Linked DNA regions of Homo sapiens. The protein of the gene in region 1 interacts with the protein of each later gene in a pairwise test. Each region holds a gene or a part of one and is shown in the gene's direction. Other genes may lie near its edges. The genes, in order: TCP11L1, REL, PLEKHS1 and PRXL2B.

What was found.
Region 2: the proteins of TCP11L1 (region 1) and REL interact in binary tests that used the Homo sapiens proteins (3 or more experiments, as listed by UniProt).
Region 3: the proteins of TCP11L1 (region 1) and PLEKHS1 interact in binary tests that used the Homo sapiens proteins (3 or more experiments, as listed by UniProt).
Region 4: the proteins of TCP11L1 (region 1) and PRXL2B interact in binary tests that used the Homo sapiens proteins (3 or more experiments, as listed by UniProt).

Annotation. Positions count from the first base shown.
Region 1 is NC_000011.10:33,034,577-33,042,647, forward strand, and holds the start of TCP11L1 (T-complex protein 11-like protein 1), read left to right. Parts: upstream 1-4,995; 5' UTR 4,996-5,216; exon of another isoform or gene 5,217-5,811; intron 5,812-8,071.
Region 2 is NC_000002.12:60,884,071-60,891,635, forward strand, and holds part of REL (proto-oncogene c-Rel), read left to right. Parts: intron 1-7,565. UniProt on the Homo sapiens protein: Proto-oncogene that may play a role in differentiation and lymphopoiesis.
Region 3 is NC_000010.11:113,768,423-113,775,987, forward strand, and holds part of PLEKHS1 (pleckstrin homology domain-containing family S member 1), read left to right. Parts: intron 1-392; coding exon 393-468; intron 469-1,361; coding exon 1,362-1,478; intron 1,479-3,547; coding exon 3,548-3,667; intron 3,668-5,804; coding exon 5,805-5,911; intron 5,912-6,403; coding exon 6,404-6,613; intron 6,614-7,151; coding exon of another isoform or gene 7,152-7,197; exon of another isoform or gene 7,198-7,342; coding exon 7,343-7,444; intron 7,445-7,565.
Region 4 is NC_000001.11:2,582,098-2,589,776, forward strand, and holds the start of PRXL2B (prostamide/prostaglandin F synthase), read left to right. Parts: upstream 1-4,679; 5' UTR 4,680-4,698; coding exon of another isoform or gene 4,699-4,788; coding exon 4,789-4,851; intron 4,852-4,993; coding exon 4,994-5,198; intron 5,199-5,643; coding exon 5,644-5,695; intron 5,696-6,238; coding exon of another isoform or gene 6,239-6,292; coding exon 6,293-6,356; intron 6,357-6,432; coding exon of another isoform or gene 6,433-6,452; coding exon 6,453-6,528; intron 6,529-6,824; coding exon 6,825-6,943; intron 6,944-7,312; coding exon 7,313-7,330; coding exon of another isoform or gene 7,331-7,382; 3' UTR 7,383-7,679. UniProt on the Homo sapiens protein: Catalyzes the reduction of prostaglandin-ethanolamide H(2) (prostamide H(2)) to prostamide F(2alpha) with NADPH as proton donor. Also able to reduce prostaglandin H(2) to prostaglandin F(2alpha).

The DNA of each region.
Region 1 (8,071 bases):
AAAAAAAAAAAAAAAAAAAAAAAAAAATGTAAGTTTGGCCAGGCACGGTGGCTCATGCCTGTAATCCCTGCACTTTGGGAGGCTGAGATGGGCGGATCACGAGGTCAAGAGATCGAGACCATCCTGGCCAACATGGTGAAACCCCGTCTCTACTAAAAATACAAAAATTAGTTGGGCGTGGGGGCACGCGCCTGTAGTCCCAGCTACTCAGGAGGCTGAGGCAGGAGAATCCCTTGAACCCAGGAGACAGAAGTTGCAGTGAGCCGAGATCGCACCACTGTACTCCAGCCTGGTGACAGAGCAAGACTCTGTCTCAAAAAAATAAATAAATAAATAAAAATGTAAGTACTCCTTTCTCCTTCCACCTTTCCCCTCTCTGTCTTTTTGTCTGTGTGTATGTCTCTATTGTTAAATAAACTTGGTCAGTTGTTCTTGAGTTTTCCTCAGTCTGAATTTTTCTGATGACAAGTCTGGGCTGTCCTTTATCATGTTCCTTTGTATCCTATAGTTCTTGTAAATTGGGCATTAGAGCTAAAGTTTTTAATACCTTTTTAACCAAGTTAATCATTATTTGGAATGAGTGCACTGTGAAGATACACAGGTGACCTTTAAACACCACAAGTTTGAACTGCGCAGGTCCACTTGGATTTTTAAAAACAGAAGTTATACAAAGTGTGCTTGCCTCTCCTGCCTCTCCTTCCTCTCCTTCCACCTCCTCCACCTCTGTGACCCCTGAGACAGCAAGACCAGCCTTCCTCCTCCTCTACCTATTCAATGTGAAGATGACAAGGATGAAGACCTTTAGGATGATCCACTTTCACTTTGAATAGTATATATTCTCTTCCTTGTGACTTTCTTAATAACATTTTCTTTTCTCTAGCTTACTTTAAGGTAGGAATACAGTATTTAGAGCAGACACGGTGGCTCATAACGGTAATCCCAGTACTTTGGGAAGCCGAGATGATTGCTTGAGACCAGCCTGGGCAATGTAGAGAGACCCTGTCTCTAACACCCCACCCCAAAAAAAGAAATTAGCTAGGCATGGTAGCATGCACCTGTGGTACAGCTCCTTGGGAGGTTGAGGTGGGAGGATCCATTTGAGCCTGGGAAGTTGAAACAGCATTGAACCATGATTATGCCACTGCACTTCAGCCTGGGTGAAAGAGCGAGATCATGTCTCAAACAAAAAACAAAAAACAAAAAACACTCTATATATAATGTAACATACGAAATGTGTGTTAATTGACTGTTATTGGTAAGACTTCTGGCCAACAGTAGTCTAATAAGTTTTAGAGGAGTCAAAACTTATATGTAGAATTTTGATTGTGCAGGGGGATTGATGCCCATAACCCCCACATTGTTCAAGGGTCAACTGTATTTGATAAATAGACAAGCAATATAATACAGTTTGAAGTTGTTCATCCTAATAGTAATAGAGCCAAAAGATTAAATACTGAATTTTGTCTTTTAACTGACTTTAATGAGAGGTAGGGAAAACTGAAATGATGCACCAATATGTTAGTATGTCAGTAATGTTTTTTTTTCCCCCTTAGGTATAACTGATAGTGCCTAGTCTAAGTAGATAAAGGTTGAGGACTAATATCTATAAAATACCTATGATACCAGTTCTAATAACTCAGGGAATAACTCCGTTTTTTTGGATAGGTAAGAATGGAAGGGCTGGGCGTGGTGGCTCACGCCTGTAATCCCAGCACTTTCAGAGGCCGAGGCAGGTGGATCATCTGAGGTCAGGAATTTGAGACCAGCCTGACCAACATGGTGAAAACCCGTCTCTGCCAAAAATACAAAAATTAGCTGGGCGTGGTAGCGGGTGCCTGTAATCCCAGCTACTCGGGAGGCTGAGGCAGGAGAATCTCTTGAACCTAGGAGGCGGAGGTTGCAGTGAGCCGAGATCGTGCCATTGCACTCCAGCCTGGGCGACAAAACAAGACTCCCTCTTAAAAAAAAAAAAAAAAAAAAAAAAAAAAAAAAAAAAAAAAGGGGAAGGCAGCTCTCTTTACAGTGAGGGGAAAAAGAAGATAAGTTTATGATTTAAATGTGAGAGGAAGTTTTCAGAAACAAGCTACTGGAACTGTGGTGAGATCAGCACGGTGGGCAGAGCAACCGTGTGCTATCTGATTTGTAACCTTTATTTTGCACATAATTGAATAGCATATTTATTTGACAACCTTCAGGGGAAGGCAGAACTGCTTAGTTACATTCATGCTTCTAGGAGAAGCAACATTCTAATAGAATGATAATTTCAGGGAAAATATACTAGTAAAATCAATTTACCTTAGGCCTTATAAGGAGGATAAAAAGAAAAATCGATCATGTTTACTGCAACCATTGTCAAGGTTTTAAACTACAGGTCCAGTGCTACCTTGAAAGCCTTGGGCAACCCTCCTCAGTCACTAGAACTGTTGATTATCTTTTGCTGTGTGCTCTCATTCATTCACCCATGACGCCTTCTTGGGGACCCATTCCCACATAGACACCTAATGCCTAGTTGACCGTAAGTCTTGCCATCATCCTAGCAGAGTAGACCAAGGTTGAGCACCTGATCCAAGGGCAGCTTCCCTGGAGGCTAATGAGACTAACTTTGTTCAAAAATCAGTTTGGCCAATCAAATTCTATATAGGTAAATTTAAATTATGAGGCGCGTCAATTAAGAAAGTACAGAAACCAGCCTGTAGCATAAAGAGTGGAATGGACTACAGCAAGCAGAGATGTGACAAGAGGGATCCTGTGTGTACAGGAGCAGTAGCCGACCTCTAGAGTGGCTGCCACCTTTCTCCCTCCAAGTCCTATGTCCTTGCAGTGAACTCCCTTTACCTTAACGTAATTTGAATTTCCAGTCCTTGCAGCCAAAGATCAAAATGGAATGTGTCTATATGTATTTTTTGAATATTGAAACAGTACAAAACATTAAAAGATTACAAGTGAAATATCCCAAATTAAATCAGTGATTTTGGTATTGTTGCAGTATCCTCTCCAGGTGGAACTTGAGTATATTCATTCACTTGCTCCTAACCAAGTGAAAATTGGTTATATTAACCTTTTTTTTTTTTTTTGAGATGTAGTCTCGCTGTCTCCCAGGCTGGAGTGCAGGGGTGCGATCTCCGCTCACTGCCACCTCTGCCTCCTGGGTTCAAGGGATTCTCCTGCCTCAGCCTCTCCAGTAGCTGGGATTACAAGCGCCTGCCACCATGCCCAGCTAATTTTTGTATTTTTAGTAGAGACGGGGTTTTGCCATGTTGGCCAGGCTGGTCTTGAACCCCTGACCTCAGGTGATCCGCCCGCCTCGACCTCCCAAAGAGCTAGGATTACAGGCGTGAGCCATTGCACCCAGCCATATTAATCTTTTAAGGAAGGTTCTAGCCTGCTTCCCCAGGGAGCTTTTAAAACTTGTCTGGCATCACCCTCCCCGGAGTTTTGGATGATACTTTTCCAACCCCTGCCCCTGAGATTCCAAGTTGTATTTGTAGTCAGGGCTGAAAAACACTAGAGACTTAATGGTACGAGTTTAGACTCAGAAGAACTGCATGTTTTCTTTGCAGATCTTTTTTTTTTTTTTCAGACGGAATCTCACTCTGTCACCCAGGCTGCAGTGCAGTGGTGCGATCCCGGCTCACTGCAACCTCTGCTTCCCGGATTCAAGCAATTCTCCTGCCTCAGCCTCCCAAGTAGCTGGGATTACAGGCATATGCCACCATGCCCGGCTAATTTTTTTGTATTTTTAGTAGAAACGAGGTTTCACCATATTGGCCAGGCTGGTCTCGAACTCCTGACCTTGTGATCCACCCACCTCCGACCTCCCAAAGAGCTAGGATTACAGGTGTGAGCCACCGCGCCCAGCCATTCTTTGTAGATCTTAACAGTTCCATTTAGTTGAGTATCTTAAGGGTTTTTGGTGTTTTTTCCTCCAAAAAGTGAATCTTCACCAGAGAACTTCTGTTTTTGTCTTTTTTTTTTTTTTTTTAAAGCAAAGACTTTAATGTGCAAGTTAGTAAATGGTTTGAGGGTCTGGTATTGCACTCGGCCTTCAATACGTTAGCAATAACTACCCACATGTGATCTATTTAGAAGCAGTGTTTGAAAGCACCAATGTCACCCCATCTGCTTTTTTGTAGTTTTTTTTTGTTTGTTTGTTTTTGAGACAGAGTCTCGGTCTGTCTCCAGGCCGCAGTGCAGTGGCGCGATCTCGCCTCACTGCAACCTCCGCCTCCCAGATTCAAGCGATTCTCCTGCCTCAGCCTCCCGAGTAGCTGGGACTACAGGCGCGCGCCACCACACCCAGCTAATTTTCGTATTTTTAGTAAAGACGAGGTTTCACCATGTTGGCCAGGATGGTCTCGATCTCTTGACCTCGTGATCCGCCCGCCTCGGCCTCTCAAAGTGCTGGGATTACAGGCGTGAGCTGCTGCGCCCGGACTAACTTTTTTTTAAAGCTGAGGAAATGAGAGAAGGGGAATAAACTTTGTGTAGCTACAAACAGGATGGCAAAATTAAATTTCAAAGAACGGGCGGGGAAGGTTTCAGATGCAATGGCTTCTTATTCCTTCTTTTGACTGACCCGCGCCTTCTCCGCCTCCCTTTCTCCTCGCGTCACCCGCACCAGCGGCTGGGATGCGGCGCGCGTTCCGTCTTTCCGTATGGAAACATGGCGCCTAGGGGCGGGCCATCCCCAGCTTCGAGCCACCGCCAGCTGAGACTCATCGGCGGGCACTCGGCCATGCCTCTCGCGTTTCCGTACGAAAACATGGCGCCTCACTGCGTGCGGCGGGCGACTCTTGGCTGGGAGCCACTGGCCACGGAGCCCCCTGAGCGGTCATCGGCCATGTTTTCCACCTCTCCCTGAGGAAACACGGCGCCGCCCAGCTGCGAGTCACCGCTTACTGAACCCCTTCGGCAAGCAGGGGAAAGACCCTCCCGCCTTTCCGTACGAAGACATGGCGCTGCCCTATATTGGGCTGGCGCCTCCCGGCCAAGAGCAGTCTCCTCCTTCCTGATGCTGAGAAGCGGCCGCTCTGACCGCTGCCCACCCGAGTCGGGCTGGGAGGACCGCCCGCCGCGTGGCGAGGGATGCGGCCTCGGAGGGGCAGAGGCTGAACCGCCCCTGCCTGCCGCGCATCCCTCCGGCTTCCGCCGCGGCGCCAGCCCGCGCCTGATTCGCGGCGGGAGCGGCAGGAGGGAGAACGCCGACTCCGTGGCAGGTGAGAGCGGGAGCTGGGGCGGAGGCTGGCGGGGCCCGTCCGGGAGGCGCGCGGTCCAAGTCGCAGGCATCTCTTCGCCTCTTCCCGTCGGATCCCATCCCGGGATGTCGGGGGCAGGCGAGGAAGAGGCGGGGTCCGCGGGCGGGTGGAGCTCACCCCTCGAGGCTGTCCTCTCGGCGCGCCCGCGTCCTCCCCTACTCCCGGCCCTGCCACTCCCTCGCTGGCCTGAACAGCTGTTTACAACGGAATCCGGACGCCGGGCGCGAGTGGAGCTCAGTGCCAGAGGAGGGGATTCCCGGCGCCGGGGGACAGAGCCCCTTTTTTCTTTTGCCGAAAGACCCTTTCTGCTGGGGAGCCTCTTGTGTCCAGCCTAGGCCCGCGTGCAGCGCCGACGGATGACCGTCTTCTTGGCAAGTGCGAGGATCCTCCTCCCCTCGGCTCTCTTTTTAGACACAGTGGGGGTTGAATGGATGCGCGCGATATAAGCAAATTAAATGGTTCGTGGCCGCATCCTAGAGCCCTTTAATTAGAGTTACCATTTGTAGAAGGCCTGCCGTGCACAATCCCTCGTTTCATCTCCCCCCAAACCGAGCAGGTAGGTAGCTGTGTTTTACAGAGGAGGACACTGAAGTTACACAGCTAGTAAAGAGCCAGAATTGGGGCCCAGGTATGTCTGAAACCAACGCCCAGCCTCCCAGATACAGTGACATCACAGAGATGACGTAGGGATTCATCTCTATCAACAGATACTTGTGGGTGTCTATTTGGGGGATATACAGATGGAGCATAAGTGGGGAATATGACTGGTCCTGGCTCTTAAGAAGTTCGAAATCTAGGTGGGGAATTTTAAAATAAAAACTAGCACTTTTACCATCTGGCCCCAACGCATCTTTCCATCATCTCTAGCCACTTCCTTTTCTCATTTTCTTGTGCCTTGGCTTCTGCCCTCTGAGTGAAATGCCCTCCTTTTCACCTCCTCTCCCCCTCCTCTCCCCCTCCAGACATGTTTTAACTAGGTGAAATCCTACTCCTTTTAAAGATCAGTTCAAATGTCATCTTTTCTGGGAAGGTTTTCTCAATCTCCTCCCAGGCAGAGTTAGTTTCTTCCTCTGCTATATTCCCTGGGCAATTTCATAATGCCACTTAAGTTTCATTATGGCTCCTTGTAAGCCTGTCTGCCTCCCCCTCTAGACTATGTATTTGCATCTTTCTATTTAAATAAGCACGCTTTGAATTGAATTTAAGGCAGTGACAAATGCCAAATGTCAACTAGCCAGCCCTGCAGGAGTTGAGAAAGGTGCAATCACTGGTGAGGTCCGGGAAGTGTCCTGGGAAGAGACAGGACTTGAACTCAATCTTAAGGATGGGGTTAGTTTACTAAGCTGAGCATTAGAGACCTAGAAATCCTCCCTTTCCTCCTCACTGCACAGAATGAATTACTTCATCCCTCCTGGGCTCCTTCTCAGCATGTGAAGATAATAAAATTAGCAGCGTTTTGTTTGTCGTTTCTCACAGAATATGCTGGTAATGTTATCCTTTGGATCTTGGAGCATTTCCTGACCCTAATAGGATTTAGGACACAGAGGAGATGGGTGTCTCCAGTGGGGTGTTGGAAGCTAAGATGGGTCTCGAAAGGGAAAATACATGAAAACAACTTTCATATTAATACAGGCCTGGGCCAGGTGCAGTGGCTCACGCCTATAATCCCAGCACTTTGGGAGGCTGAGGCGGGCGGATCACTAGAGGTCAGGAGTTCGAGACAAGCCTGGCCAACATAGTGAAACCCCATCTCTACTAAAAATACGAAAATTAGCGAGGCGTGGTGGTGGGCGCCTATAATCCCAGCTACTGGGGAGGCTGAGGCAGAAGAATCCCTTGAACCTGGGAGGCAGAGGTTGCAGTGAGCTGAGCCGAGATGGTGCCACTGCACTTCAATCTGGGGAACAGTGCAAGAGTCTGTCCCCAAAAAAAAAACAAAAAAACAGGCCTGAATATTTCAATCCCAGTAACTTCATTCTATTTAATGGAGTTCTCTGAAATTTCACATAATTCTATCAGGTGATTCTTCACCTCTCTCTAATATGCAGAACACAGTCTGCCAAACTCCCTAAATCAGTTGACATTTCTTTTGATCACCTGATTACCTTCCATGTGTGTAAGAAAGTCTAATTAGTGTTTATGAAAATGTTTTGTGATCTTCAAGTGCTGATGTTACAAATGTTAATTATTTTCAGCAAATGCAGAAACATTGTGTCTTCTCTCCCAGAAACACCCTAGGAAAAGGGAGAGTGGAGGAATTGACTAAAACTTTTACTGTAATTAAAACAGGGTTTTTTTGTTTGTTTGTTTGTTTGTTTAGACAGAGTCTCAGTCTGTTGCCCAGGCTGGAGTGCAGTGGTGCGATCTCGGCTCACTGCAAGCTCTGCCTCCCGGGTTCATGCCATTCTCCTGCTTCAGCCTCCTGAGTATTTGGGACTACAGGCACCGCCACCATGCCAGGCCAATTTTTTAATATTTTTAGTGGAGACGGGGTTTCAGCGTGTTAGCCAGGATGGTCTCGATCTCTTGACCTCATGATCCGCCTGTTTTAGGCCTGTTTTAGGCTGGGCACGGTGGCTCATGCCTGTAATCCCAGCACTTTGGGAGGCCCAGGCAGACCTTTTATTAACTGCTCCAAAGCACAGTGTCAAGTGTTATTGCTATTCTGATCAGCAACTAATAAAAAGCCCACCCAACTGCATACATTATGGTTGTTTGCAGCTTCTTACTCACAATCTTTTTCCTAATTACTGGCAAGAAGGTAATAAAAATATTTGCCCCACACATTCCTCTTAAACATTTCATAAGATTCTGTT
Region 2 (7,565 bases), on another chromosome or scaffold:
GAAACAGTAATTTAACCGGAAGAGTGACCAAAAAAAAAAAAAAAAAGAAATTGCTTAGTTTTTCATTGTCTAGTTTAGATTCTGTTTGTAGTAAGGTAGTATTAAAACCTCAGAAAGTAACTTTTATTCATTACGAAGTATTTAAGAGCATTTCTTCATTTCTTACCAGATGTCATATGTAAATAGGTATATGTAGTTGAATATGTGATAGCTATAATGTAAAAGTAACATAAATCATAATCTTATAAGCAAAATTATGTAAGTTAGAATGTAGTTTAAAATCATGTATATAATATGATTCTAAATTTTGTTTAGATAAGTTAGCAGATTAATTAGGATTTCACAGCTTGTATTAAGCTGCCTTTCGTTGCTTTTTAAAAAAATTACACCTTGATCACAGTCTTTTGACATAATTAATAATAGATATAGTGAAGAAAAATGTTCCCAAACCCATCTAAGGTATGCATAGTAGGCAGTTGTTGCTTTTGTATATTTATTCTATTTAATATAAGTAAAATTAGATATTTTATGTCTGAATTTAAACCTTCTCATTGTTCCAGTAAAAAGAGCAAAATGTCTTTGTGTGGCATATAGCTCTGTTAACTAATAATTAGTGCTGTCTTTGGTAAAATGTTTTAAAATTTAGATAATTTATTTTTCTTCACATTTTTCTTAGTATGGTTCTTCTGTGTCACACAATAGGAAGGAAGTACAGAAATGAATTGTTTTTGTAAACCTCACTTCTTACCAACTATTTGTAGTGTGAATTTCAAGAGAATTGTTGTTTTTCTCGATTAAAGGGGAGAAATGGAAGTAAGTGTGAGGCAACTTAATCTTTAATAACAGAGCTGGAAGTTAGGAATGGATAGCTACAGTAAATGACTTCTTTTTTTAAGTAAAATGCCACACATGAGCATGAATGTTTCAGAAATGCAACACATGAAAAAATAGAAATAACAATGGAGTTAAATAATTAAGGTGACGTATGATAGGCACAGATAAAGGGAATGAGTTAATGTAATGACTAGGGAGGAGCCAGACAATGAATCATAATTAGGAACATCTAGGTTATGCATAGTATCTTTCTCAAATACAATTTAAGGGACTCAGAATTTCATTTTGTTCCAACTTTCTCTCATATGGGTTCTCTGAAAATGATTTTGTTTGTAGGCACATGACCCAAATATTGCATGGGATAAAATTGTTTTTCTGAAATTCATATTTATCTGGGCCTCCTCTGTTTTTATTTTTAAAACAGAGGTGATTTGGTCTTGCCATTTGTTTTTAACTTTAATACCTGTATAATCTAGGACAGCTTTTAAAATTTATTTATTTTACCCTGGCACGTGCAAGAGTTTTTTCAAGACTTACCTTTTTTCCCCCTTGGTAACAGAATCCCTATTGCCAGAATCTTTTACAGTTTTTACCTTGTAGTGCATAAATCAGTTGAATACTCATCTGAAAATTTCCTTTCTTTGATTCTTAAGGCCCAGTTGAAAGTCAGCCTGATGTATTGGAGTAATAAAGTCAGCCTGATATATTGGCATAGCCTTTGGCTGATGAGAGACCTAGTTTGAGGAAAAAAATAATAGATCTTATTTTCTTTTTCTCCAAATTGAGTAGAGGTGATATTTGGAAAAATATATATTGTTAGCTCCATTGGCTCCTTTAGGTCTCAGGCAAAGTCTGTCACCGAGGACCTTTATGAGAGACATGCAGTCTAGTCAGCTATTCTCAACTGTGGTGTTGACACACTGGTGTGACAATCATTTGTGTGATGTGTTGCAAGAGTTAAAATATTTGTGTTGTAAATTATTTACTTTTTAAATAAATGAAAGCATTTGAAGGTTATCTCTATATTGTCATTTTTTCTTGCTTGCATTTGAATAAGGTTCTTTTTTAAGTGGGAGATAAACACAAGTTCAAGTTACAAGTAGCCAGAATTGCTTTGCCTAATTTACTCACGTCCCAGTCCATATTTGTACCTGAATTTTTAGATTACTTCTCTCAATATGTGCATTGTTGCTTCCACTTCATGTTTTAAGACAATTATTCTTAATCAGGAGTGTGTTAGAATTTCTTGGAAGGCTTTTTCAGCAACGTGTATCTGGGCTTTAAAAACTATGAAGATTTCTTTATCTTCTAAACATCTCAAGTGGGGTAAGGACATGTATGTTTTGAAAAAACTACCTAGGTGATTCTGATGTACATCCCCAGTATGAACTCTGTTCTAGGGATTTCTTTGGATCTAAATACTCATTTGGCTATACCAGGATGCATTATCTTCTTAAATTAAGTTGCATTTATTTTAGATTGCAGATTATGTGCTGTATCAGTTATTACCTCCAGTTGCTTTTATGCTTGTTTTTTAAATTTGGCACTGCCATATTAGCATACCATTCATAATTCATTTTTATTATAACTTCATATAATTTTCAACTTTAGTTTTATCATGTGTAAGATGGGATAATAATTTCTATTATTTTTCAAATGGAGATTAAAGTTAAGAGGATCAAATGAGAAATGTATATAAAGGGGTCTTAAAATAATGTTATAATTACAATAATTAGCTTTTTTTTCTGTATACTTGATGCTGGTTGCTAATTCTAGCAATAAAGTGTTTGTTAATAATGTGTCTATTTCCGATAATTTATGATCCATTTAAACATTTCAATGTAATTTTTTTATTTTAAAAGCTCATGCTTTATTAGATAGGCACTATGTTTTAAAATAGCACTCTTTCTTGCCTAAGCGCAAATAAAAACATAGATATATCTTACAAACATTTTGGCTGTATTTTAGAAGTTATTCTGATGTATATTAGCCTTTTAAAATACTATTCAGAATATAGGGGTCAGTCCCAGCTTTGCATAGTGTTGCTTAAAGAAAAATACAGTAATCAATTTGTTTAGAGTCAATTTTGGAGACGTTTTGGTGCTTTTCAAAACTGTGGCGATTTGAGGTTATCTTAGTTAAGAGTACTTATTTTCCCTACAATTTCCTGATTTATGTTTTACCCTCTTGCACTCCATAGATGACTACATTTCAACACATTTTATATTCAGGAAGAATGGCATTGTGCAAAGCACAGTACTGAGGAAGGAGATAACTGGTGCATTGTACTGATGCATTATATAAATGATTTATAGCTGGGAAGTTTTTTAAAAATCATAAACACAGATAAATCAAAATAGGAATGAGTATGAGGAAATACTGAGGTGTAGCAATCCTGGTACCTATAAAGCACTATTTTTTTTTCCTTAGTAGTGGAATCTAATTAAAAAATCTGACTAATCACTTATATGATTATTTAACGTTTGAATAACTTGTATAAACAAAAGACCTTAAGATTTTTTAGTCATTCATTCAATAGATGTTTAATGAATATCTCTGTACAAGGCACTGATGAGTTAAACACAATTTCTGCCTTCAAGTAGCTTGAAGAAATAAAACAAGTAGCTTTATCTCAAGAAGAAATAAGACGGTAAGTTTTCCCTAAATTACAGTTATTTGGAATAATTGCTATACACAGAATACTATGGTAGTTTAAAGGAGGGGAGATTATTTCCAGCTGGGGGAATGTAGAGTATTACAGTATACTGTGTTACTTGGTTGTAATACTCTACATTCCCCCAGCTTGTTAATTTTTACCAATTAAGAGCTTCTGCAGTAGGAAAAATAAATTCCAAGGACTTTAAATACTCAATATTATATGATAACTGATATTTATGTAATTTTTACTATTTAAAAATATTTAATCTTTTCAACAACTACTTTTCTGTTCTTTTTGTAAACAATCTAAAGAAGTGTCATGTAACCAATGAAGTTTTGGGTTTTTTTGTTGTTGTTTTTGTGTTTTGTTTGTTTTTTTTTTTGAGACGGAGTCTCACTCTGTCACCCAGGCTAGAGTGCAGTGGTACAATCTTGGCTCACTGCAGCCTCCACCTCCTGGGTTCAAGCAATTCTCTTGCCTCAGTCTCCCAAGTAGCTGGGATTACAGGTGCCTGCCACCACATCCCGCTAATTTTTTGTATTTTTAGTAGAGATGGGGTTTCACCATGTTTTCCAGGCTGGTCTGGAACTCCTGACCTCAAGTGATCCACCCACTTTGGCCTCCCAAAGTGCTGGGATTACAGGTATGAGCCACCATGCCCAGCCTCAGTGAAATATTTGAATGCTCACTATGAACCTAGCAGTTTTATTCACACTCTCTCTTCCCAAAGTTAAACACTTATCATTAACGATGTCATTTTATATCAGTTTCCCACCAAGACACCTTTAAATAAGTAGTGGGCAGGGATTTATTTGGCCTTTACTTCAGCCACATAAATTATTTAAAATGTGACTTAAAAAGTAATGTTGATTTTAACAGTTTTTAAGAGGAAAATATACTTTCTTAAATACTCCTACAAGGATATATAAGGGTATGAAATATTTGAAATTGCAATGTGAATTTGAAATCTTTAAAATATGCAAGGATAAAATCGTGAAATACTCATCTGCATATCTTATGTTTTTGAGTAAAACTGAAATAAGGATTATGAACTTGTTTAGGTTAAAGTCAGTTTTCTCTGGCTCTTCATCTTCTGAATAAACAAATAGGTAGTAGATTCAAACACAGGGAGTTTACACCATACAGAATAAAATTGAAAGTTACAGTAATACTTTATTCAGTAACCCAAAGTAGAAGCCATGGAATCATCAATGATTCTTTAATTTCTGAGCTATCAGTGATTCTTTAATTTCTCTTAACCCTACTGTTCAGGCACCAGGTGCTGTCAATTTTATCTTTTAAATAATCCTTCATTCATCTTATCACTGCCATATATCAGAGATACCCTCATCATTGCCCACATTATTATAGTGGTCTCTAAACTGATGACATTGCTTTCTTTTTTCTATCTGTTCACTGTGACTAAAACTTTTACTCTAAAATGCAAATCTGATCATGTGATTTGCCTGCATCAAAATATTCATTGATTTCATCACACATAAAATGAAATCCACATTGCCAAGTGTGCTCTGACTTTTAGTTCTCTTTTTAAGAGAGAAAGTGTGTTCCATTTACATTGGTGATTCTTAAATAAACCCTCCTCTGTGGACACACTGTTCCCTTTTCCCTAGAATACCTACCTTTTTCCTCTTCATTTCCTCCGCTCTTTTGCTTCATTAACCGCTCTTTTTCCACTGACACAGTTGGGCATTCCTGACTCTTTCGCTCTTATTTCCGCAGAATTTTGTTAGTGCTTTCCTTCCTTCTGTAGTCTAATAATATATGTTGTTTGCCTTGCTCTTCTATAAGGTCCTTTAGAGTGACAGTTGGGATACCACCATAGTATCACTAAATCATTGTTTTCAAGAAAGCATCTGAAATAATAGACACCATTTTTTTTTATTTTTTATTTTTTTACACTTTAAGTTTTAGGGTACATGTACACATCGTGCGGCTTTGTTACATATGTATACATGTGCCATGTTGGTGTGCTGCACCCATTAACTTGTCATTTAACATTAGGTATATCTCCTAATGCTTTCCCTCCCCCCTTCCCCCACCCCACAACAGGCCCTGGTGTGTGATGTTCCCCTTCCTGTGTCCATGTGTTCTCATTGATCAATTCCCACCCATGAGTGAGAACATGCGGTGTTTGGTTTTTTTGTCCTCACGATAGTTTCCAGCTTCATCTATGTCCCTACAAAGGACATGAGCTTATCCTTTTTTATGGCTGCATAGTATTCCATGGTGTATATGTGCCACATTTTCTTAATCCAGTCTATCATTGTTGGACATTTGGGTTGGTTCCAAGTCTTTGCTATTGTGAAGAGTGCCGCAATAAACATACTTGTGCATGTGTCTTTATAGCAGCATGATTTATAATCTTTTGGGTATATACCCAGTAATGGGATGGCTGGGTAAAATGGTATTTCTAGTTCTAGATCCCTGAGGAATCGCCACACTGACTTCCACAATGGTTGAACTAGCTTACAGTCCCACCAACTGTGTAAAAGTGTTCCTATTTCTTCACATCCTCTCCAGCACCTGTTGTTTCCTGACTTTTTAATGATCGCCATTCTAACTGGTGTAAGATGGTATCTCATTGTGGTTTTGATTTGCATTTCTCTGATGGCCAGTGATGATGAGCATTTTTTCACGTAGACAACATTTATTGAATGTGTATGTATATATGACACTTCGTAAGAATTTAGCACATATAATCTGTCATCTTCACAACAACCCAATGAGGTAGGTGCTATTATGATTATTCCTATTTTACAGAGGAGGAAACTAAGAGATTTTTAATTTTAATCACATTTCCTTGGTCTTACTGTTAAGAAGTAGCTGGGGTAGGATTCTAAAGGCCTCTTCTCCATACTGTTCTGATAAGGCCCACTGTGTTACCATTTCTCAGGATTGCTTGCGTTCTAACAGGATAAGCCTTAGTCAGCACTAAAGTGATTAAGGGACACATTATTATTATTTTTTAATGGAAAACATCTTCACACCCCTATTAACTCCCCTACTTGCAAGTACAGTTGAGTGTCTATTTACCTTTTCCCCCACAATTTGGATAATAAAAGTAAAGTTGCATACATTTTAAATAGCTTTATTGACATATAATTTATGTACAACAAACTGTACTTTTAAAGTATGCAATTTGACAAGTTTTGACATATGTATACAACCCTGGAATCATCATCACAAGATAATGTCCCCCCTGCCTTTCCTATCCACCATATATCCCTGTTCTTAGGCAACCAGTGATCTGCTATCGTTCATTGTATATTACTTTACATATCCTAGGGTTTCATATAAATGGAATCATACAGTATGTGCTCTTCTGGTCTAACTTCTTTCACTCAGCATAATCATTTTGAGAGTCGTCCATGTTATTATATGTAGCAGCAGTTCATTCTGCAGATGCATATTTTGAATTTTAGTTATTATAGAAAGTGAATACTTTTTTTTCTCTATTATGTCTTTAGAAAAGGTTTGCATGGGACTGATTGCACATTCTTTGAGCCTAAAGTCCCTCCTGGGGCTTGTTTTGATATACTGTGTGTAAGTCCTTTAATATTTGAATGGAGATATAAAAAACTTACATATGCTTCTGCAAGGATTTAAATGCATTTTCATTTTCAGTGAATGGTCTTTTCATTCAGTATTATGAATATGATGTAAAATCAAGCAGTTAAATATATTTAACTCACTTTAGGAGTGTGATATTTTACTTCTGAATACTGCCTTCTTTACCCTTCTTGGGGAATCTTGGGGGAAACCCTTCTGCTAGGTCTCACGTGGGAGGCAGATATCTCTGAAGTGGTTATCTCAGAACTTCATATTGACGTTAGCTATAGATATTAAGCTATAAAGTGCTAACCAGTCAATATGGTTTGAATGACTTGTTTTGACACTACATAGGGACTCAATTTGAATGGGAAAAAAAGGTGCCTCTCCCAGCCAATCTCCAAGATAACATTTCGGTCTTGTTATTTAATGTTAGGAGGAAAAAAATCTTTGTTTTAGTCTGCTGTTATAAAAAAAACAGAATGTTAAAATCCATTATTAA
Region 3 (7,565 bases), on another chromosome or scaffold:
ATTCACTCAAGCACATTCTTCATCAACACATGCACTCCCTAAGGGAAGGCCCACCTGCATAGTTACACAAAAATGACACTGACAGGTTAGGGGGCTTGCTTGAGAACACAAAGGAAATCAATGTCAAAGCCGAAAGCCCCAAACCCTGTGATTACTACTATTATTTTCTACTTTTCTTCCCTTTCTCTGAGCTTTCCTTGCAGAGGTGGCTGAGCATTAATTCTAGTGTGCAAATGTGGAGGTGGCGAGGCCATTTAAGCTACTTAGGAAAAATTCTTATTTCGCTGGTACCTGCTCTCACCACCATTCTAACATTCATAAAAGAATCCTTCTCTGGTTCAAAAGGCACTATTGTTGCCACATGCCAACTGAAAGTTTATTCCTGTCAACAGGGAGAAGATTAAAGACTGGGTCTCCTTCATGTCATCATTTCGCCAGGATATAAAAGCAACACAGCAGAACACAGAGGTGACTCCATATCACTAATAAAATAACAGGGCACCTGAACACAACCCTCTTTCAATAGAAAACAATGGTAGCTTTCCTTTGCCTCCTTAGTAACTGGCTTTAATACAAGGAATAAATAAATGAGAAAATGTACATCCTTATTACTTTTTATGATTAACAGAAAAAAATTCTTTTGTGTTTTGTGAGAGAGCTAAAGTACAGACACTTCAGATTTTTATTATTGTGTTAGAGGGAAGAAAAGTTAACTGTGACATTTTTAAGTAGTAGCTAGAATATAGTATTTTCCATCATTGTTATTCAAGGTGCATGACAAGCTCCCTTTTGAATGACTAAGTCTAGGGCAGTTTCTATAAAAATGTTTTACATGTATCTTGCATTTTTAATATAATGTATCTTTCATGTACATGCTTAGCAGTTTTAAGTTTTAAACTTATTTCAAAAGGGCCTCTGCTAATGTTCCTTTCTCAGGGCAGACCTTTATAGATGGAACTTTGGTCCCTAGGTATCTTTTTTTGACATGTTTTCTAGGTTGTTCCATGCTTACAGCAAAAGCCAAAGAGAAGGAGAAATCAAGGCATGTCTTCAAGTAGACTGAAGTGATTAGAGCAAAGGGAACTGGGGTGGAGGGTGTCAGAAAGAGACACAGTTGAGGAGACAAGTTGAGGGAAACGCTGGTCATCTCTGAGGGTCAGGCTAAATGTCCTCAAGGGTTTGGAAACAGGAGAGAGACAAGTTCGGCTCTTGTCTTGGTGAAATAATGCTGGCAGGCCAGCGGCATGAATGTTAGATTGCTATGGGAAAAGACAGGAGGCAAGGAGCCCGGTAGAGAGGCTGCCGTTTCATTCCAGACAGAGATCAACTGTGCCCTGACTGATTCCTTTTTTTGTGAGCAGGAGGAACTCTCATTGGGTAATAAAAGAACCCTCTTCTACTCCAGCCCTCTCCTTGGCCCTTCCAGCACATCAGAGGCTGTTGGCTCCAGCTCACCAAGAAATGGTCTCCAAGACAAGGTAATGGGGCTCACTTCTTTCTCAGGACACCACACCTGGGAGGCAGCTAATGCCTAAAAATCTTACCAATTAGCAATTGAATTTAACCATGCCCACCTTCCTCAAAGCCCGATGCACTATAAGAAAGATTCTTAGCCCTGATGTTTATCCCATACCACAGATGAGCCTCACTGAGGGCTTGCCCTGAATACCTCTCAGTGTATTCATTCATTTTAGATGCTCTTGATATGCTTTGGGTATGCTAGGGTAAGACCCCTTTGCTAAACCAAAACCTAGCTGGCAACTTGCTTCCTTTCTTTCACACAGAGGGCACAGATCCCTCTGCCAAAAGATTTCCCAGACACTACCTGATTTCTGCCCATTCTGTCTGTACTCCTCAGGCAAAGGCTGAGTTTCTTGTTAATCTCTTCCCTTTACCCTGATCAATCTCGCTTCTCATTCATTATAGCTGTCTATCACTTCTTCCTCATTTCTAATGAAATCCATTTGAAGACATAAAATATAATGTACCTGCCTCTTGAAAGCGACTTGTAATTGGACCTTCAGCTTTCTTGGATTTGCAATGTTCCCAACTTGGGATATTAGTCATAAACATGCTGAGTGGTTTTGTTCTCTGGCACGGATACTATTTTGTCTCTTAGAGACTTATCCATTGACTTTACCCTGTCCATGTATACCAAGCACATCTAATGAGTCCTAGTCCCTTGTTTTATCTAGTTGGTAGCTCTCCAACTATTTTGAAAGCTTTTTGTAGCATATCAAATTCACCATGCCAAACACCTCACCTCAGTTCTTCATTTAGCGAGTAGAAACGGTGGTATGCAGCAGTTAGGAAGCTTCACCCTTGTCTGTAAGTGCCTCTTGCTTTTCACTCATGATATCTCCCTCCCCCTAGAGATAACATTATTGGTCACTTTGCCTTTTCACACTATAGATCCAGTGATTTTTAAACCAGCTCGAGTTAACAGTACTGTTTGCCTTGCTGGGTGGTGTTGTTGTTGGTTAAATTAAGTGGGCTGCCTTTACCCCCAACTCAGCATGATCCGGCTCCATGAGCTTGGAACTTAAAACATGGACAGAACTTAAACACACCTGTATTTTAAAACTTGACTTTTTTTCTAGAGAACATTCAGGGTCTTTTCCAAACCCCCTGCTCTGAGGCATTGTTCTTGGAATTTTTCTGCCATGCAAAGAAGCTACTTTAGTAGAATATTCTGTATCTATGGGGAAGGGGAGGCAATAGTGGTTGAATCTAGATCACCTGGAAACCCATAATTCATACTATCATATGATCAACACAACCAAATTCCATTGCTGTGGAAACAATAGAAGTGTGTGAACAGAACACAAAAGAAAAATATGGAGCAGGAACAGGAAAGGTGCAACGCCTTGATTCTGGGTTAATTACATTCTTAGATGGCACTGGATGATTACAGGAAAAAGATGAGGGTAGCAACTCCAGAGCTTAGTGACTTAGAATGCTACCCACAGGGCTGGTCATGGTGGCTCATGCTTGTAATCTCAGCACTTTGGGAGGCTGAGGCGGGTGGATCACGAGGTCAGGAGTTTGAGACCAGCCTGGCCAATATGGTGAAACCCCATCTCTACTAAAAAATATACAAAAATTAGCTATGCATGGTGATGCGCGCCTGTATTCCCAGCTACTCAGGAGGCTGAGGCAGGAGAATCACTTGAACCCAGGAGGTGGAGGTTGCTGTGAGCCGAGATCGCGCCACTGCACTCCAGCCTGGGGGACAGAGTGAGACTCTGTCTCAAAAAAAAAAAAAAAAAAAAAGAATACCACCCACAGGAGAAAACCACTTGTTCTGAGTGACTGTTCCAAACGGTAGAGAAAAAAAGCCTGAGTGATGTGCTTATATGTTTTCATCCTCAGTGGTGACCCAGACTCAAGAGGCAAGTTCAAGTTGTGTGAGCTTCTGGATGTAATCTTGGAAGACCCTCTGGTCTTTTTTAACCCAACTAATTTATTACGGCTTTTCTAGAATGCATGTGATTTAATTCTATCTCTTGCAAAGAAAAAGCAAAGCATTTTTATCTCTTTTCTTCAGCATTTAATGGAACAAAGTTCTCCAGGATTTAGGCAAACTCACCTACAAGATTTATCAGAAGCCACTCAAGATGTGAAGGAAGAGAATCATTATCTTACTCCTCGAAGTGTTCTTTTAGAGGTAACCCCTTCTTGTCCATTCATCATTTGTTTCTTTAACAAATATTTACTGAAACCCTGCCATGCACTTTTCGTGCAATATTAGGCTATGGTCAGTGGGAACACAGAAGTAAATCAAATACAGATGACGTGCTCATGGTGCTGACACTTGACTAGGAGACAGCTGTAATACAAGACAGAGGGTTCTATGCTGAAGAGAGATGCTTATAAAATACCAGGGGTGCATGAGCTATGGGAGGAGGAGATGACTTTCAAACAAAAGATCAGGAAGATTTCAGGGACGAGATGACATTAGGCCATACATGATGAGTAAAATTTGGATGTGGGGGATTGCCTTGAGGAGTCTTTCTGCATTCTTAGCAGAAAGAATAATATGAGCCAAGGTCCTTGGGTGATCAGTTGTGTGCTGTGTATCGATCAGTCTATTGATCAGTAGGAAGCCCTTACTGAATGCCTTCTGAGCACTAGTCACTGTACTGTACTGGGCATGGTGGCTAAAGTAATGAGCCTGACATCACCCTGCTGTCAGAGTGCATAGTCTTGTCAGTTACCACAGGATAACGCTGCACAAAAGACGTGGTCCGTGTGCTCTGGAAGCAATAGAAAAAGAACAGATTTTCTCTATCAGAGTCAAGGAAGGCTTCTGGGATGAAGTGCCATTTGATACATGTATGGGGAATAGTTCAGTGAGGCTGCAACCTAGAGTGCGTGAAAGGCATAGTGGGAGATAAACAGAAGAAAAGGGCCAGCCCATGATGGGTCTTGAATGCCAAGTTGACTTCATTCTGTAGACAGCATAGGGGAAGCGATGGCTTCTGAGTTGGGAAATCTCAAAACCTGAATTATCCTCCATTAGTATTAACTGAGCAGCTATATCTGCCATGGACTATAGAGAGAAGAGAATGGAAGTGAGAGATAGGAAGACAGAATGGAGGGTGGGAATGCTGCGTCATTTCCCAAACTGGGGGTTTTCCGTAAGATGGTGACGTATGTTTATATAAAAGAAACATTCTGGGGTCAAATAAGTTCCGGAAACACCCAGTTAAAATAAGTTAAACAAGCTTCTTAGCAGAATTCTCAGAGCATTTAGTATGCAGTGGTGCATTGTAAATAGTCAAGTCAGATACAACACATGGCATTTCCCAAGCTCCTTTGAGCACAGAGTTCTTCTTTCACCAAAATATTTTCATATTTCTGTTTCCTGGGATGCAGTCTTTTATGATAGTTCAGCCAACCAATCAGATGTGTACTGAGCATCAGTTATAGGCCTGGCCTTTGCTAGGTACTTTATGATAAGTAAAGTCTAGTAAAGCAGACAAAACAGCTAAAAAGACCAAAGATAAATAAATAAATAAATAAGTAAAAAAACTATGCAATGGAAATTGAGAGAAAGGAGAGCTCTGCCGTAGCTGAGGTGATCAGAGTGGGCTGTGGGACTTCAGCCAGGCCTGAACATGATTTCAGTAGGCCGAAAGGAAAGATGGCACTCGAGGTGAAGAAGAGAGCACGAACATGGCGATGGAACAGCACCATTTGCAGGGGGCCAATGGGAAGACTGGCTTGACTGGAAGGAAGGTTTCCATCATGGGTTAACGGTGAACTTAGGTAGGCCTTAGGGTTTTTGAGCAATCATTGCCACAAGTGACTCTCTTTGTTCTAAGGGGGCTATGGAGAGCTTCCTAAGGGCAGTATTTTTCTAGAACATTGCAATGTCCCTGAAGCCACTTGGGCTGCCTGTGAGCATAGTAACCTGAGACCAGCTTCACATTGTGTCAGAGTCTTTGTCCCAGCCAAGTGCCATGATTCTATAGTAGAACTGATTGGGGAAATGCTTTCATGTCATTAAGTGCCGAATGGTGAAACAGAAAGATAAACAGCAATTTAGCTCAATAGAAATAACACTTGTATCCGGAGCATGAGGGATCCAGGAGAAGAAAATTGACTTTGAGTCCTCCAGAAGCTTTGCTGGTTCAGTCTCGCGGAGGTAAGGTTGGTTGATATTTCTCAAATGAGAACCACGTTCATCCACTGGAAACTGTACCTCTATGTCAGAGCCCAGAGCTGTTAATACTAGAAATAAGAAGGTACCTGACTTATCGGTAAACTGGGATTCTTACATCTATTCCTTTTATCTGCAGTTGGATAATATCATTGCTTCCAGTGATTCTGGTGAATCCATTGAAACTGATGGTCCAGACCAGGTCTCTGGAAGAATTGAGTGTCATTATGAGCCAATGGAATCCTAGTAAGTCAAAATGCCGTTTCAAAATTTGATGTTTGCTCATCTGCTGTTAAGGAACAATGATTGTCAGTTCATTTCAATAGTTGATAAACTGATGCCAAACATTACCAGAGACCAGTTTCCACATATTATTCAGTCGTCTCAACACACAAAAAATGAGGGAGTCATGTCTCTTCCCACAGAAAACCACCGATGACATCCTCAGGACCTTTTCCGTCTCCTGAGGAAGTTATCTTCTACTTTGCATTTATGTCTCTCACACTCTCACTTCTGTCCTCCAAACACTGTAAAGGGTAATTTTGATTCCATATCTATTTTTAGAAGGAAAGTTTGTTGAATTTGATGCTAGCTGTGGCTGTGATTCTGATAGTTGGACATACGTCAAGACCTTGCTAGTCTTCACATGGCTGTTAGCTACTTAAATCTGACACACACAGGGGAACACTGTAAAAACACATGCTAAAATAGGGCTTGTTTTAACTTCTTATGCTCTAGTTTTTTCAAAGAGACATCCCATGAGTCTGTGGATAGCAGCAAAGAGGAACCCCAGACCCTTCCAGAGACCCAGGATGGGGACCTCCACCTGCAAGAACAAGGCTCAGGAATTGATTGGTGTCTTTCCCCTGCCGATGTGGAAGCACAGACCACAAATGACCAAAAGGGGTCGGCCTCACTAACTGTTGTGCAATTGTCTATATTAATCAAGTAAAGCTCTAATTTCTAAAACTTGATGGGCCCTAAGAGCAAGGCAGCCTCCCTCCCACTTTTTTTTTTAACTTAGAATTTAAATTTTAAAGCTGTTCCTAAAAATCTCCAAGTCAGCCAAAAACTTGACCATCTTCTCCCTGTCATTGATGTTGTGGCCAAGGAGAGGGGATGATAGATCTCAAGTAAAGCAGTTCCTGGGGCGGGGGGTGGCATTTTCAGCTATTTTTAAAAATTCCCCCTTGGCTACTCTTTCAGGTCCCAGGACTTGGGATCCACACCAATCTGAGTAGCATGTCACTCAGTTTTCCCATGAGTGTAATTATGGACATGCAAGTTGCATGAGACTTAGTTATAGACCAGGAGGGGGTTATTTAGGCTTTAAGTGATACCAAGAGCATTTGGTACGATTGATGTAATTTTAACTCTTTTCCATGCCTTCTTCTATGGAATCATTTCCAGCAGAGAAATATGCAGACTGGCCTGATGTGGACAGTTACATAACCAATTTAGTCCATTTTTCCCTCTGTTCCCATAGCCTACCATCCGCTACCACATCCCAAGAGGATTTTTCAGTAACTTAAATTTATATTATTCTCCAAATGTTTTGAACAACCTTTACCTGGACAATGTCATCTCAGAAATAGAGGCCAAAAGTCTACTCAGAAAGTACAGTTGAGAGCCAAGGTCAGTTGCCTGATGTGACTTTTACAAATGTCTTGTTCATAGTAATATCCCCGATGAAAGCCAAGTGGAGAAACTGAACGTTTTCCTTTCTCCTCCTGATGTCATCAACTATCTTGCTCTCACAGAAGCCACAGGACGGATATGGTAGGTTGGAGATTTGACTGTTGTGGATTATAAATGGGGCTGGAAGCTTTGAAGAGAACAATTACATCTTGAAACAGTGTATTTGGCAACACTGACTAGGTTTGGGGCGGGGGAGCTTGGA
Region 4 (7,679 bases), on another chromosome or scaffold:
GCTACTCCAGAGGCTGAGGCAGGAGAATCGCTTGAACCCAAGAGGCAGAGGTTGCAGCGAGCTGAGATCGAGCCGTTGCACTCCAGCCTGGGCAACAAGAGCAAAACTGCATCTCAAAACAAACAAACAAACAAATAAAATAAAAGAATTCCCAAACTGATTAAAGATACCAACCCACAGACTCAAGAAGCCTAGTAGGACTTCTGCTGCTGGCCACGATGCTGCAACTTGTCAATGTAAAATAAACAACAGAGAGACTGGCTCTCCCAAATAAAGTTTACTGGGGGATGGCAGGGGATTGCAATCTGGGATATGCATGCTGAGGGGGACCGTAGGTGTATCTTTCTTTTAGGGGTGGGAAGAGGAAGTCTACACAGATTGTTTTGGAATAAACCTCCCTGGGTACAGGAGCTTATTGCAGGGTTGGTGATTACTCATGGGTAACATGATTGTTGCGGGGGAGATGTCTTCATAGGAGCAGCTGATCTGGAATGTTGTGTGCTGTCGGAGTCCCTGTAACAGTTCTCATCATAGGCACCCGAGCATGAGGGACCTTCCGTTGAGGCCTCCCAGCTCCGTTTTGCTTGGGTCCTGACATAAGTGACTCTGCCTTAGTATTGACAATTTTCACACAGTGGAGCCAGTTTCCCCCATTTGTGCCCCCTCCCCCAGTTCATATGCTGAAACCGAATCCCTAATGTGATGACATTATGAGGTGGGGCTTCGGCATGTGCTTAGGTGGGTAGTGAGGGTGGAGCCCTCGGGAATGGGTTAGTGCTTTTATTTATGTATTTTATTTTATTTTGAGACGAAGTCTCACTCTGTCGCCTAGGCTGGGAGGCAGTGGCATGATCTTGGCTCATTGCAACCTCTGCCTCCCAAGTTCAAGTGATTCTCCTGCCTCAGCCTCCCGGGTAGCTGGGATTACAGGCATGCTCCACCACGTCCAGCTAATTTTTGTATCTTTAGTAGAGATAAGGTTTCACCATGTTAGCCAGGCTGGTCTCGAACTCCTGACTACAGGTGATCCGCCCACCTCGGCCTCCCAAAGTGCTGGGATTACAGACGTGAGCCAAAACACCCGGCCAAAGTTAGTGCCTTTAAAAAGGAGGCCCCCCAGAGCCCCCTCATGCCTTCCACCCTGTGAGGACACAGCATGAAGAAGTGATCTAGGAACCAGGAAGGGGTCCTCGCCAGACCTTGAATATGCCGGCGCTTTGATCTTGGACCTCCAGCCTCCAGAAATGTGAGAAATCAATTTCTGTTCTTTAGAAGCCACCCCATCTATGACTAAGACACCCTCCCACCTTCATGCTACTGAGTGGACAAGCTTACATGAAATGACTGTTTTCACATATGTGGCACCAGGCAGCCCAGGGATGCCGGTGAAATCTCTGGGTAAGTCTCTTTGGCCTCTGGTACTGGCAGCTTCTCCTGTTAAGAGGGCAGTCCTCCACGAGTGTCTCGTGCCCCCCACCTCTCACAGGGTGTGCCAGGAATGCAGGCCCTGAGTACCCTCCCCCATTTCTCAGGGTGGTTTGCCCTGAGAGTCCTCTAGGGACAAAGAGCAGCTTGCTCACTGCTTGCTGCAGAAACAGCTGACTCCCCCAGTGCAGGGCTCCTCAGTGGCCACGCAAACCTACTGACTGTGCAGTGCCCACCCAGGCCTACCCACATGGCACCCGTGGAATTTGGGGGCAAGGGGATAAGACCAAACACACAGGTGAGCACCTGCCTGCCACGCCATGAATGAAAAAGTCCTTTGTCTCTGACCCCGGAGTTTCACGTCTTCTGTCAGCATCCCTGCTGCGGTAACGGGCCAGCTCTTCCTTTGTAAGGAAAGCTAAAACCCAGTCCCAGAGCTGGCACCACCTGGAGGAGGAAGTGCTCTTCCCTGCCCCTCCTTGGCCATGTGACTTGCTCTGGCCAGTGACATGGGAGTGCAAGCGACACATCCCAGCTGTGCATGGCCGCTGGGAGAGTGTGGCATGGTTTCTCCATCTCTCCTCCATGTCCTCCCTTGTCAGGAGAACGGCATGTTCCAGAGAGCCACAGCTTGCTCAGCCTGGACCCCAGAACGAAGGAGGCATCAGAAGCTGAGCCACCCGTGGCCGACAAGAAACCTGAGTGGGAGGGGAAACTTGGTTGCTGTGATCGACCCAGGCTTGCGAGTTGTTTTGGCAACACAGCCTAGCAAGAGCCGACCAATATGTCATTGATGAAAGAAAGTCAACAGGCGTGTAGAAGGAGCTGTCTACTGAGCATGTCTGCACTTTTCTGAATTATGTTGCACTTGAGTAAAAAGTAAGCAAGCCTGTCTATTTACTTTAAATGATGTGTGCCAGATATGTACAGTATGCAGAGTTAAGAAGGTGCCACCCCAAAATAGGCTGCTCTGGCATAGTCACTATTAGGAATTAAAGGCAGTTAAAACAATAACAGGTGCAAAAAGATCATTCTGATCTCTCTTGTGTTTCTTAAAAGCAGAAGATGAAATTCCCAGGTGAAAGATGCTCTCCCTACACTAGAAAGCTCTGATCCTCAAGGATGAGAAGCTGAGACCCAGCAAATGCTGTACAGTCCCTGATAAAATGCCTCTCACCTTTTCAGCCCCCCACATCATCTAGCTGCTTCCTCAAACCTCACTGTTCTCTGTCCAACTCAGCACACGACTGAGTCTGCTTCACTGGGTCTTCACTTCCTTAGGAGGGCTCCTGAGCCACATCCAACTTTAATCAAATACACTGGCATGATGATCTGTCTTATCTTGATTTAACTCTTGGGCCCAGCCAGGACCTCAAAAGGATGGAGGTGGAGTTTTTCAGCCCCTACATATGCAAACACACACATAGCATGTATCTGAGCGGCCACATGGGCTGGCCCTGCTATTTTCTTATGGCTTCTCAGCCTCCCAGCCACCTTCTGCTCTGCATCACTGGAGCTGGGAGGCTGCAAGCTCCTTTCCCACTCTCCTCTGCCCGTTGGCTTCCAGTGAGGCTCCTGCAGCGATGGCGTTGGTGGGAGATGCCAGGCGAGGAATTGATCTCGCATTCTCGTTTCTGGGAACGTCTCTGAAAATGGCTGAATCCCGTCTGGGATCCCAGCTCCCAAGGAGGCGGCAGCTTGCTCACTGCTTGCACAGCCCCAGACGGCAGAGGGGCCCTCTCCTGCACAGCCTGAGACAGTGGAGGGGCCCCCTCCTGCACAGCCCCAGAAGATAGAGGGGCCCCCTCCTGCACAGCCCGAGACAGTAGAGGGGCCCCCTCCTGCACAGCCTGAGACGGTGGGGGGGGGCCCTTCCTGCCCAGCCCCAGATGGTAGAGGGGCCCCCTCCTGCACAACTCCAGAGGGTAGAGGGCCCCTCCTGCACAGCCCGAGACGGTAGAGGGGTAGCCCTGGTCTCTGGGGGCTGCACTCCTGGGCTCTGGAGCTGCCACAGCTCCTCCCTCCTAGTGCTTCCCCTTCCTTGTTTTGCTTTTTGCCCTTTCTGACATAGTGACGACTTCCGTTTCGCAGTCTGGACCTTCACCACCCCAGGGCGAGGGCACAGGCGAAGCAGCAGCACCCCCCCGGGGCCTCTCTTTATTTGGAATACAGTGTGGGGGCTCCCCCTTCCTTCTCCAGCCCGCCCAGGCCCCTGGAGCTGTCCTGGGGCCTGGGGAGTGAGGACCCGTGCCAGCAGCACAGACTCTGCCAGGCCGGGCCCGCTCAGGTGGGAGCCCAGGCCGGGTGAAGCTGTGACCCGGCCCTCACCCCAACTCGGTGACAAAAGCTATCACAGGGCTGCAGTGGGGGAGGAACAGGACGCATCTGCCAGGCACCTGACCCGCAGTGCACTTCTGGGAGCTGTGCTTATCTCCCCGGGGTCTATTTCGCCCCAAGGTTTGGCGGGTTAAAAGCTGATATGCAACCGGCACGACATGAACAGTATTTCATGATTAAAGACATCGCGTCCATGTATAATTGAGATGCTGCCGCATTTGCGGGGATTTTCAAGCGAAAACCAGGCCACGTGGAAAGGCTAAGCCCTCGCACCCCCCCGCCCCCCACTGCTGGGACCCCCGCCCCGCGGGAGACCCCGGCCCGCGGTCCCCTATGCCCGCGACCCCTGCGCTCACCCTCTCCCCTCAACCCTGAGTCCAGCCCAGTCTCGCGCGAGGCCGCAGGGAGACCCCCGCCGCTCCCTGGACCACCCCTGGGCCCACCGTACCCAGCCGCTCCCCGGCGCCCCCCGGGACGACCCCGAGCCGGCTGCCCGCCTCCCGCCGCATTCCGCACAGGCGCACCGCGCACCGAGGGCCGCACCGCCCAGCTCCGCCTGCTGCGCCAATGGCCGACGGGGTCCAAGTCGGCGGCCCAACGGAGAGGCGGGGCTAGGGGCGGGACCAGGACGCGGGACAGCAACTGTCCCGCAAGGCCCGGATTGAGGAGGCGGGAGGGACCGAAGCAGGCGGACCCAGGATTTGGCGCCGCGATCTCGAGGCTTGGCCTGGAGTAGGAGGGGAAACAAGGCGGGACTAGGGGCGAATCCGAGGGGGCGGAGCAGGGCTCGGGGTGCGGTCGGGGGCGTGGCCGGGGCGCGCTGCGGCCATCTTGGGGGCGGGCCCGGGGCGGAGACGAGCCCGAAGGGGCGGGGCCTCGGCGGCAGCAAGAAAGGCGGGACCGGGGCATCTCGGGGCGGGGCTTGGGGCTGGATCTATGAGCCGGGAGCGGGGATCCAGGAGCGAGGAGCCGGGAGCGGGGAACAGGGAGTCGGGGAGCCGGGAACCAGGGCTGGCAGCGGCCGCCATGAGCACGGTGGACCTTGCTCGCGTGGGCGCGTGCATCCTGAAGCATGCGGTGACCGGGGAGGTGAGGCCGGGTGGACGCAGGGCGGTGGGCGCGTCCCTGGCTCCTTGCCCGGGCGTCCTGGCAGCGATGGGGTGGTGGGGGCCGCGGGGCCTGGGCGGGGCTGGGGGCAACGGGGCGCGCCCATGACCCAGCCGCCCGGCAGGCCGTGGAGCTGCGGAGCCTGTGGCGGGAGCACGCGTGCGTGGTGGCCGGGCTGCGGCGCTTCGGGTGCGTGGTGTGCCGCTGGATCGCCCAGGACCTCAGCAGCCTTGCTGGGCTCCTGGACCAACACGGCGTGCGCCTGGTGGGCGTAGGGCCCGAGGCCCTGGGTCTGCAGGAGTTCCTGGACGGCGACTACTTCGCGGGAGGTGCGTCCTGTTCCCCGCCGCGGCGGCGCACATACCCTTCCCTAAGCTCAGGGCGTTCGGGGCCCTTTCCTGCCCAACCCCGGCCCTTCTGTCTGCTGGAGCGGCCTTGATATGCCCACGGGTCAGCGTCCCTCATCTCTCCCTGCCTCCCCGCCCCGCAGCTGGTGGCTGGGTGGTGCCCTGCACAGACCTGGGCCCAGCAGCAGAGTCTGGACGAGCTCTGCCCCGCCGGCTCCACCTGTTGCCTCTGGGACTCAGCCCCTCTTCTGAGGGGAGGGGGGACACTCAGCCCCGTTTTACCCCTCCCTGCCCTGCGGGGGTGGGCTGAGCACGGAGGGTGGGCAGAGGAACAGAGGGTCGGAAGGAGGAGGGCGATTCTTTGTGGTGAGTGGGTTGGGGGCTGGTTCTGCGCCTGGGGCACACACATGTGGCTTCCGCTTTCCAGAGCTCTACCTGGATGAGAGCAAGCAGCTTTACAAGGAGCTAGGCTTCAAGCGGTGAGTGGGGGCGGGAACCCTTGGGTAGCGTGGGGTGGGGGGCCCAGGGGTTCCCACCGCTCCCTGCCACCTCCTCTCCCTGCTGCCCTCTGTGGTGCTGTCCACTCGGGCCTTCCTGGGCAAGGCGGCTCTGGTGGCACTGTTGACCAGCCCTTCTGCCAGGCCTTCTCTTGGGTGCTGGGTGACTGTAATGAGCCACCTCGTCCGGGGCTTACTCTCGGTGTCCAGACCACCTCGTGGGGTGGAGCCTCGTGGCCCATCAGGGGCCATCCTAGCTTTCTGGTGTCTGTGCCACAGGCTGCTTCCTTTGCTTGGCAGTTGCCAGCTGAGCCAGATCCCTGGGCACACCCAGCCTGGGGCCCCATCCATGCTCCCTGCACCCTCTGTGGACCCTCGGCTAGCAGCCACTGGGCTCGGTGTCCAACCTGCCGGTGGGCTGGGCTGGCTACTGATCTGGTCGCCTGTGCCATCTCTGAGCCCTGGTGAGGCGGGTGGGTGGGGTGGGGCCTGACCTAGGAACTGGTCTCATGGACACTGGAGCAGGCTCTGGACCCAGGCTTCTCCGGAGTTTGGCCAAGCGACCTGGTGTCTTCGCAGGTACAACAGCCTGAGCATCCTCCCAGCAGCTCTGGGGAAGCCCGTGCGTGATGTGGCTGCCAAGGTGTGTGCGGGTCAAGGGTGTACAGGCCGGGGGGTGGTGGGAGCTCCCAGGAGCCTTTCTTCTAGGATTGACTCAGGCTGTACCCACTCCTGACAGGCCAAGGCTGTTGGCATCCAGGGGAACTTGTCTGGGGACCTGCTGCAGAGCGGAGGGCTGCTGGTGGTCAGCAAAGGTGGGTCGAGGGAGGGGCCTCGGCCACTGCCTCAAGGAGGGCCTTGCTGAACTTGGTGGCCCAGCCCAGGCCCTCTCTCTGGCTTGTCAGTCTCATCACAGCCCCTCCGCCGCAATGTGGCCTGGTTCTGCGTGTCTGCTGGGCTGAGTGGGGCTGTGGCAGAACAGCTCACTCATCTGGGTAGCCGGGTGGGGGATATGGCTGGCCAGGGCTGCCCTACCCTCCCTCCTCCTGGTATGTGGCTGTGAGGTGCAGGCGGCCTCCGGGGTGCCGTGACTGCCTGCCCGCTGCTACAGGTGGTGATAAAGTGCTCCTGCATTTCGTCCAGAAGTCCCCAGGCGACTACGTCCCCAAGGAGCACATCCTGCAGGTCCTGGGCATCTCTGCGGAGGTCTGTGCCAGCGACCCGCCTCAGGTGAGCTGGGCCTTGGGGGCGCTGCCTGCCAGCCCACGCCCTGCCCCTAGGTCCCCTGGGAGGAGCACTCGGCTTGGCTGGGAGCTGAGCCACAGCGCTGTGGGCATCATGCCAATTGTGCCCTGGGATATGGATGCCACTGTGACCCCACTTGCAGAGTGGGGCAGGCTGAGAGGGGCCGAAGGGCAGCATGGCTGGATGGACAGGCACCTTGGGACTGTCCTCAGAGGTGGGGGCGACACATGGGGTGGCGGGCAGAGAGGCGTGTCCTCTCAGCCTTGGGAGGGCTGGGGATTGTCCAAGGGGGCCCTCCAGGCATTTGTCTGATCCAGTGTCCAGCGGCCCCATGGGACCCTGCTGTCCCCACAGTGTGACAGAGAGGTGTGAGGGAGGCGAAGGCCCTGGCCTCCGAGGATCTGGGTGGCGTCTGCTGCCCTAGGTGTGCTGGAAGTCCACTTGGAAGAACTGTTCCGGAGGCGCTGGGTCGGGATGCCGAACCTCTCCTGATCCGCCGGCAGCAACGAGCCATTAAAACTGCAGTTCCTGACCACGCACTGCTTCGCAGGCTCCGAGCCCTGCATCCTCCACAGCCCCCGCCTTGCTCACTGTTGGGCCCTCAGGGCGGGCAGGGTGGCTGTGAGTCCCAGGTGTCATCTTCCTGCTCTGCGACTTTCTCTGGAGACCTTGGGCCTTTGGCCTGTGGGGCACTGGGGATGGTAACCTCACTGCCCCGTCA